Homo sapiens: one gene and its partner. The protein of the gene in region 1 interacts with the protein of each later gene in a pairwise test. Each region holds a gene or a part of one and is shown on either strand. Other genes may lie near its edges.

Region 1 (5,383 bases):
TTTGAAATAATTTATCAATGTATTAGGTAAGCTCAGTTTCAGAATGATAAACTGTTAGACCAAATAATGTGGCTAATTAACAGTGGTACGATTTCTAGCCTGAGGGTTTAAAATGGGCTTAAAGTAACTGTCTTTAAACTGAACTCAAAGAATGCAAAAGCGGCAAGTTCAGACAAGGCAAGAACAGGACCTTTAGTCCATTTTAAGCCATAAATATTACACAAAATATGCCTCTAACTGAAACTGAGAGGTATAAAAACATATTTCACTCTTTGTAAAGAACTTTGTGAGGAAATATAACTCTGTGATTGTATAGACACTTTCCTCATGACACTTTGACATTCACGAACAGTAGATTGTGCTGCAGTTTGTAAACGTTTTACGTTGCATAAACTGCTCCTTGATTTTCAAATGTAGTATAATACTGTCTACTAAAACTCCTTTTTGTTTCAACTAAGTACTCTCACATATATTAGTTTATAATAATGTTTGTTATTATTTTTAAAGTGTTCTCCATTCAAGGAAAAGAAGTAAATTCCTATGTCAGATGGTTGAAGACTAGCTATTAGCCAGAGAGGTCTAGATGGTAAAATCCATCTTCTAGCCTCAAATAAGCTCCATGAACACAGAGGAATGCCAGGTGTCACACAGCTTTCCTTCACTCGAATTCATTCTTGACTAGAGCCTGTATATGCCTGTTCCAGGGGCATTTAAACTCTTAAAGGATTTCTTCTGATCTTTACTAAATACATTAAGGAGAACGCCAACCAGTGCCCTTTTGTGTACTGGGACATGTAGTCATGTGATTAAAACAGGGAACATGAACTCTGACTTTAAAATGTATTGTAGATATAAATGCTCTCAGCTAGAAAAGGTTTTCCACATCCACAGTCATGATGGGAGCCTTTCATTCCTCAGAAATAATCCCTTTTCAGGTCATCAAAAAAGAGTACAACTGCCACAGCTCATGAGGCAGTATCTTCATGAGCCTAGAGCACATACAAATCCTAAGGGAACTACCGTAGTACAGCGCTCATTCTTGGCACCGGAACAAATGAAACATATTCTATCCTGCACACACCTGCCAAAGCAGGCCACTTTCCTCTTCTGGGAGATTTAAAAACCTCCCCAAAATGTTATTACTCCCATCCCCAATACACAGAAAAAGGGGGAAAGGCTGTTTCCAGAGGGCAAACCACATATTGAGCTAATGAAGAGCTCACTGTGATTAGGATTCGATCAAACATAACAGCAGAACATAAGGAAATTTTATCTGAATTCCGTAATGAATATACAGGCTGTACTAACATTAAAAAAGCATGGCAGCCTATCCCAAACCAGCAAGAACAGTTGTGTGCATACAGTGGGTCTTTGTGTGTTTGAACTCCCACCACATAAGGGCAAACTCGATATGCATGCTAACGTCCTATAATTATCAAATTAAAGAAATGCTAAAAGATGCCAGAGTGAACATGAGAGAAAGACCCACTCTCATTTAACTTTTTACAAATAAATTTAAATTATAAATTAGAAACAAAAATAAATTTAAACTATAAATTAGAAACACAAATAAATTTAAACTATAAATTAGAAACAAATAAATTTAAACTATAAATTAGAAACACAAATAAATTTAAACTATAAATTAGAAACACAAACATAAGTGGCTCTAACATTCAAATGAAGTAAATGAATTGTGTAGGATATTAACCCCTTAAATGTTTTGTTTTTTTTTTTCAATTTCTTGACCCGCTCTTAGATGATGGTGATGTTTAGCTCCCTGTTCTCGGCAGCCCGAAAAGAATGGCATGCAGCCTCTCCTGCTCCTCCTGCCGCCTCTCCTGTACCAACAGCTTCTCCACTCAAGCCTGGGTGCTCCTGGGGAGTCCTGCATTAGAGGAAGCAGCTGCTGGATCTGCTGTGCAGTGGGGTTGTCATGGGGGAGAACCCTCCCTGTCCTCTCCCGGTGCAGCCTCCATGCTATCAGTGAGGCTCAGCTCACTAAGATCTTCAGAGAGAGGGAGGGGGTGGGAATCTGGGCACAGTGCGAGCCTCCCCTGCTCCTGCCTGCCCACCCCGCCTGAGGGCTCTACTCACCACCCTGCTTGTCCGCACATCCAAGCTCCTTGTGGGACTGGGGCTCCAGCTACTGGTCTGGCTGCTGCTGCAGACTCGGAGCCTCTTGGCTCTTCAGCTCCACCTGCCGGAAGACCCTGGGCATGAGGACATGTGGTGGCTGGCTTCCAGATTCCTGGCCCATTAATAGGGTAGCGAGGGCACTGTGGGGCTCTGTGGCCTGCCCAGGCCCCTGGCCCCTTGCTCCAGGCCTAAGAGACTGTCTCCCTTGCTTAGAACCCCATGCCTCCTTCCCTAGCATCAAATCTCACGTCCTTTTTCCCAGCATGTAAACTGTAGGCCACAGACTGGTGGAAAAGCAGGCGGAGCCAACCACCATCTGCTAAGTGTGCTACATGCCTAATGTTTCCACGTATTACCTCATTTAATCCTCAGCACCTCTGCAAGGAAAAGGCTAACTTCCTTTTGAAGTTAAAGAAACAGAGACTTAGAGATGCAAAGTAGTTGAATTATGACCAGTGGAACCGAGGCCGGAATCCAGTTTGAATCTAAGGAGGCTTTTTTGTTTTTCTGTTTTGTTTTGTTTTGAGAGAGTGTCACTCTGTGTCCCAGGCTGCAGTGCAGTGGTGCAATCTCAGCTCACTGCAACCTTCATCTCCCGGGCTCAAGTGATTCTCGTGTCTCAGCCTCCTGAGTAGCTGGGATTACAGGCATGCACCACCAGGCCTGGCTAATTATTATTATTATTTTTAATTTTAGTAGAGATGAGCTTTCACCATGTTGGCCATGTTGGTCTCAAACTCCTGACCTCAAGTGATTGTCCTGCCTCAGCCTCCCAAAGTGCTGGGATTGCAGGCATGAGCCACCACACCCGACATAAGGAGCCTCTTATACCACTGTCTCTTCCTCTGTGATTGGGGGGCTCCATGCCTCTAGCTGGGATGATGATGTCCAGACCTGGGAGGACCCCAGGGCTACCCACCTCTAAAAGTCAGAGGGCAGGAAGCAAGAAACAGTCATAGGACTGCCCCGGAGGGTGCTGGGGTCACCTGTCCCCAGGCTGCAGCTGCCTGTGGCCTGGCACCTCCCCTCCCCAGAGGCTGGTGCCCGCCTCCCACATCTTCTTGGATGGGTCGGAGGTTACAGTCTCTTTCAGCTCACCCGACTTCTCCAGCTCCTTTACTTGCTGCTCCAACTGCAGTGTGCTCTTGTTCTCGTTGTTCTGGACAGAAAGAAGCAATCAGTGGCCACCCACTAAAACTGGAGACCCCAGAACTTAGTGTCTGCCTCCCATGGCACCGGGAAGGGTGGAGGCAGGTTAGAAAAATATCCCCTCTCTCCCACAGCCATCAGAGCAGGGCTCTGGCTCACAGATGCCTTTAGAAGTACCATTTCATGTGAAGGCTACAATGCCCCATTTTACAGGTGGGGAAACAAAGGCCTTGAGGGCTAGGGAAGAGGGCAGCCTCCCCAGGTGGGGCAACGCACCAGCTCCTCGAAGCCGCTGCGTGGCTCGGCCCGCTGCTCGTACAGGGCTTCCCACCCCAGCTCCAGCATCCTCTCCAGCTCCCGCAGCCTCTCCAGCTCCCGCAGAGTCTCCTGCTGCCACAGCCTCTCATCCTGTTGCCGAAGCCTCTCCTGCTCCAGGAGCTCCTCCACCTCGTCCAGCAGCCTCTCCCTCTCCAGCAGCCTCTCCTGCTCCTCCTGCCGCCTCTCCTGTTCTAACAGCTTCTCCACCTCTTCCAGCAGCCTCTCCTGCCCTGGCAGCTTCTCCTGTTCACACAGCCTCTCCTCCTGTTCACGTAGCCTCTCCTCCTGTTCACACAGCCTCTCCTCCTGTTCACACAGCCTCTCCTCCTGTTCACGTAGCCTCTCCTCCTGTTCACGTAGCCTCTCCTCCTGTCTCCTGTTCAGGAGACTCAACATCTGATTGTTTTCCACCTCAGCCTGGAGCTGTCTTCCCACACTCTCTAGCTCCTTCCTTAGGTGGTTGGTCTCATCTTGTAGCTGCTCCATCTTAGATGGCCCTGCTGGGGGCTGTGGGGCCAGGGGTTCAGCTGAGAAAGCAAGCAGAGAATAAGGGCCTCTGGATTCTCAAAAAAAAAAAAAAAAAATCCTCCCTTTGGTGCACAGCTCCTCCTCTCAGGCTTCCCAAACTTGGCCTCACTGCTAATGACTCCTCACACCCGGATGGTAGACAATCTTCCAAGTCACTTTCAGATAGAGAGCACTGTGGGTGGCTGACAATGGGCACTCCTCCCTCTTTACTGATGGGGACACTGAGGCTCATGGAGATGACAAGACTTGTCCTCCCCTGGCACAGACCTCTTTCCCTCTGCCTCAAAGCCCTTCCATCCACCCACCTCCCTGGGGCATTCTAAGTCACCCCCACAGCCCTCTAATGCCAGTCCAGCTGCCAGGTCATGCCAGCCCCATCTTACCCGTCTGGTTTTTGAGTTTGAACAAGCTCCTCCCAAGCTTCTGTACCAGATGTATCTCATGCTTCTTCTCCTCCTTAGATGTGCGAACCTGCCCAAAGCAAAGGGGGAAAAGGGTACTGGAGGGAGGGGCTGGTGAACGTCCAGAGACAGAGTTTGAGAAAGGCCCACCCCCCTTCTGCCAGTTTGTGATTTAGAAACGTGCATTCATTCAACAAACATTTACTGAGCATGTACAGGCCAGGTACAGTTCTTCATAGCAGAGATATAAAACAGCAAAGGACAGACAGGAGCCCTTCGCCCTGAGCTTTCCATTCTAGGGGCCTTTAAATCTCTGACTTTCAGAGCTAACCGAGACCTTTGATACTCTCTACCTCCTCCAGAAACACGAGCATAAAGAGGAGAGATGGCTTGTCCAGACTCAAAAAGCAAATTAGGGACTGAGGCAGGGCAGGAATATGGACCTCTGACAACCAGTCAGGCTAGTGCTTCCCAGAGAGGTGACAACCCCAGGGCATGTGTGGCAAGGACTAGAGCAGGGGTGTCTGGAGAAGAGAGAGTCAGCAAAGAGGGCAGTGCAGAAGAGCCATGCTGCATGTTCTGTGCTCTGGGGTCCCTCCAGGTGAGACCTGGGTGCCCAGCTCCCCATTTGCCCTTGGCATCAGGGGCCCCTAGCCCCTTTCTTCAGGGCCCCAAGAGGAAACTGGAGTCCAGGATTGACCAGCTGTAATCAGGGGACCCCACTGGACTCTTACCAGTGAATTGATGTTTTCAGTGAGTTGACTGATTATTGCGGAGCTTGAATCCAGGGCTACTGCTAGTTCTTGGTACTGGCTCTGAGGTGCATGCAGAGAGAAGGAGTTGGAGAA
Region 2 (3,172 bases), on another chromosome or scaffold:
GAGCTTTGGGTGGTGGCACAAAAAGAGAAGGGAAATGGAATATCCAACTCTCTATTACCACTCTTAGTTCTTGAACTCCCCAGGCCAAAGTCTGTATTCTGGCTCCAGTAACTGCTGACCCTATATTACTCATGCCCCTCCTTACTGGCTGTTCCACGTGAAGAATTACTTTTTCATGCAATACTTTCCCTTCTTCTCAATGCCACACCTCTTCCTCCCAACCTGCTTGCTCACTGCCCTTTTCAAGAAAGCCTTCTCAAATGAACAAAACCTGTCACCCGGTCTCTCCATTTCTCCATGACATCCCCACCATCTGGGAAAGTGCTTGCTCTCTCTGTGATTCCAGTCTGGTGAAATGTTGCCTGGTTGGCCTCTGCATTTTTCTCATGTTTGTGTGCATGACTTTCCCATATGCCATGTGGCTCTAGTGTCTTCTTTTACCTCACAAAACACCCATCCAGGTTAGACAGTGCCGTAAACAAGGGCGATCGAGACATGGAGAATTTCAAATGCAGTTTATTGCAGCAAAACAAGGAAATGGGGAGTTTAAGACCTCTCCACAAAAGAAAAACAACTTGCTTACACCTTATGTACAAAACCAAAACAGCACAGAGATAAGATGCTAAGGAGCTGTCCACACCCTGGGTCTAACTGGTCCTACTCTGGCTGGCTTAAGGAGGTGCTTTGAAATGTCATGTGGGTGGTGGTCACTGCTGAACTGTTTCTCAGGGAAAGAACAAAGCAGGGTCATAGCCAGGGGACTGAGATTGCCACTGATCTGAAAACTTCATTGGGAAACAGCAGAAAAGAAAGAGCTGGGGGAATAGGATGAGCTAGTGTAACTAACCATAGCTCTTTTCTCCGGTAAGGCTGGGACAAATCGACCTCGGTCTTGCCAAGCATATTTGTTAGTGATGCTGGGGGAGAACTAGAGCTAATGAAACAGAGGGCATCTCTTTATCTGGTTACTCCGGAATAAGTGGTAGAAACAAACTTCACGCTGGAACTGCCACCAGAGGACTTGACACCCCCAGAGCTGGATCCCCGGCCTCCTATGGAGCCTCCAGAGCTCCCGCCGCCAGAGCCCCGGCCGCCAGAGCTGCCGCCGCCGCCGCCTCCAGAGCCACCTCTGTAGCCCCCACTGCTGCTTCCGGAGCCGTAGCTGCCATGGCCGCCGCCGCCACCTCCAGAGCCATAGCTGCCACCTCCGGAGCCGTAGCTGCTACCTCCGGAGCCATAGCTGCCACGGCCGCCGCCGCCGCCACCTCCAGAACCATAGCTACCACCTCCGGAGCCATAGCTGCTACCTCCAGAGCCGTAGCCACCGCCGCCACCTCCTCGGCTGCCACCTCCACTGATGGTGGTGTGGCTTGTGCTCACAGCTGCAAGAGGAAGCTCAGTTATTTTCAACCTCAACTCCGTTTCCAGCCCAACAAAGCCTGCACATGCCCCTGAGAAATCGACTTGTACTTACACACACTCACGTTCGGGGCACATTCTCCAGACATCCTGTAGGAGAAAATAAGAAAATTCCTCAGGACACTCCAGCTTCCCAAACCGCTTCCCCATTCCCCGCTCCACCACCTTGAAGACTTTCCCCATCTGGGTCTTCTCCAATGCACTTAATCTGAAACTTAATCCAATCCCCTCTGGCCTCCCAGACCTGTCATTTTTTCTCAGCAAGAGTACAAACACGGAGAAATTCCCATATAAACGAGACAAGAGCCTTGCAGCCAATGAAGGCCCCCTCTAAAGATGCCGACTTTAGGCCAGCTGCCATCTGAGGCAGCCCAGATAAAGAATAATTTGCTCCACCTCAAAGCTCTTTCTAGATATGTTACAGCCCTAGAAGAAAAAAATAAACAGCTTGGGACTCCAGCTCCCAAAGTAAAACTAGGTCCTTCCTCCTGCTCCGTGTACTTTTCATTTCCCCATACCCAGCACAAGCTGCAATCAGATGGCTGCATCTTCAACAACAATCAGCTTGCAAGGAAGGAAGACCATGAGAAGAGGTTCGACTCCCAGCGTCCCTTCCTCACCTGCTTTCTTCTCCCTCCAGGAGGGTCCTGTAGGTGGCAATCTCCAGATCCAGGGCCAGCTTTGTGTTCATCAGCTCCTGGTAGTCGCGCAGCAGGCGGGCCAGGTCTTCCTTGGCCTGCTGCAGGGCATCCTCCAGGTCATTCAGCTTGTTCTTGGCATCCTTGAGGGCATTCTCGCCACGCTGCTCTGCATCACTGATGGACTGCTGCAAGTTGGAGATCTGAAAAAGAATATGACACCCTCTCATAATATGCATTCCCCACTAGGCCTCCTCATCCCAATTGGTCTCCCCACTCCAGTGAGGCCAATAATGAGTCCAACAGAACCACTTGGCCTTAAGTCATCTCACACCCACCTCCAGATAACACATCACCATGTTGACTTCCTTAAAAGACCTTAGGGATAACTCAACAGCCTCTCTTGGCCCTGAGTCAAGGCTCCTACAACCCTTACAGACTTGACATTCTTCTAAACACCTACTCTAAAACCTCCTGGCTGCCCTTCCTCTCACTCCCCAACTCTTAAGTCCACTTTGGGTCATAGGCTAGATCACTCACATTGACCATCCCATCTTTCTCTACTAGGCCATTCTCACAGATTTCCCTAAAGAGAACCCAGCATGATGGCTGCATTCTGGAAACTAGCATAGTCACAAAAGGAACCAGGGATAATAATGTAGCCTTGGGATGAATTGCAAGATTCAAAACTAGGAAAGCACTCGCCCTTTACCTGAGGGTTACCCCCATTCCATACAGCTGAGTGGTAGAAGGAGAAAGCACATACCTGCTTCTTGACATTGTCGATTTCAGATCTAAGTCTCTGGATCACACGATTCAGCTCAGAAATTTCTATCTTTGAATTTCTCACACTATCCCCATGTCTGCCAGCAGTGATCTGCAGCTCTTCATACTAAAGATGGTAGATAGCGTTTGTTAAATGTAGGCAGAACTCAGCATGGCACAGGCACACATACATGAGATAACACAGGATAGCAAGACAAGCCATTTCAGGGAAACTGGCTAGGCTTTCAGCCCACTCACCTTGCTCTGGTACAAGGACTCGGCCTCAGCTTTGCTCTTCTGGGCTATATCCTCGTACTGGGCCTTGACCTCAGCAATGATGCTGTCCAGGT

Evidence for each region. Proteins that work in one complex are often made in the same cells at the same time.
Region 2: the proteins of GOLGA6L9 (region 1) and KRT1 interact in binary tests that used the Homo sapiens proteins (3 or more experiments, as listed by UniProt).

The regions. Positions count from the first base shown.
Region 1 is NC_000015.10:82,432,784-82,438,166, reverse strand, and holds part of GOLGA6L9 (golgin subfamily A member 6-like protein 9), read right to left. Parts: exon of another isoform or gene 5,351-5,383; coding exon 5,270-5,350; intron 4,606-5,269; coding exon 4,518-4,605; intron 4,134-4,517; coding exon 3,565-4,133; intron 3,299-3,564; coding exon 3,238-3,298; intron 2,201-3,237; coding exon 2,098-2,200; intron 1,889-2,097; coding exon 1,756-1,888; 3' UTR 1-1,755.
Region 2 is NC_000012.12:52,674,236-52,677,407, forward strand, and holds the end of KRT1 (keratin, type II cytoskeletal 1), read right to left. Parts: coding exon 3,081-3,172; intron 2,950-3,080; coding exon 2,824-2,949; intron 2,261-2,823; coding exon 2,040-2,260; intron 1,510-2,039; coding exon 1,475-1,509; intron 1,383-1,474; coding exon 958-1,382; 3' UTR 501-957; downstream 1-500. UniProt on the Homo sapiens protein: May regulate the activity of kinases such as PKC and SRC via binding to integrin beta-1 (ITB1) and the receptor of activated protein C kinase 1 (RACK1). In complex with C1QBP is a high affinity receptor for kininogen-1/HMWK.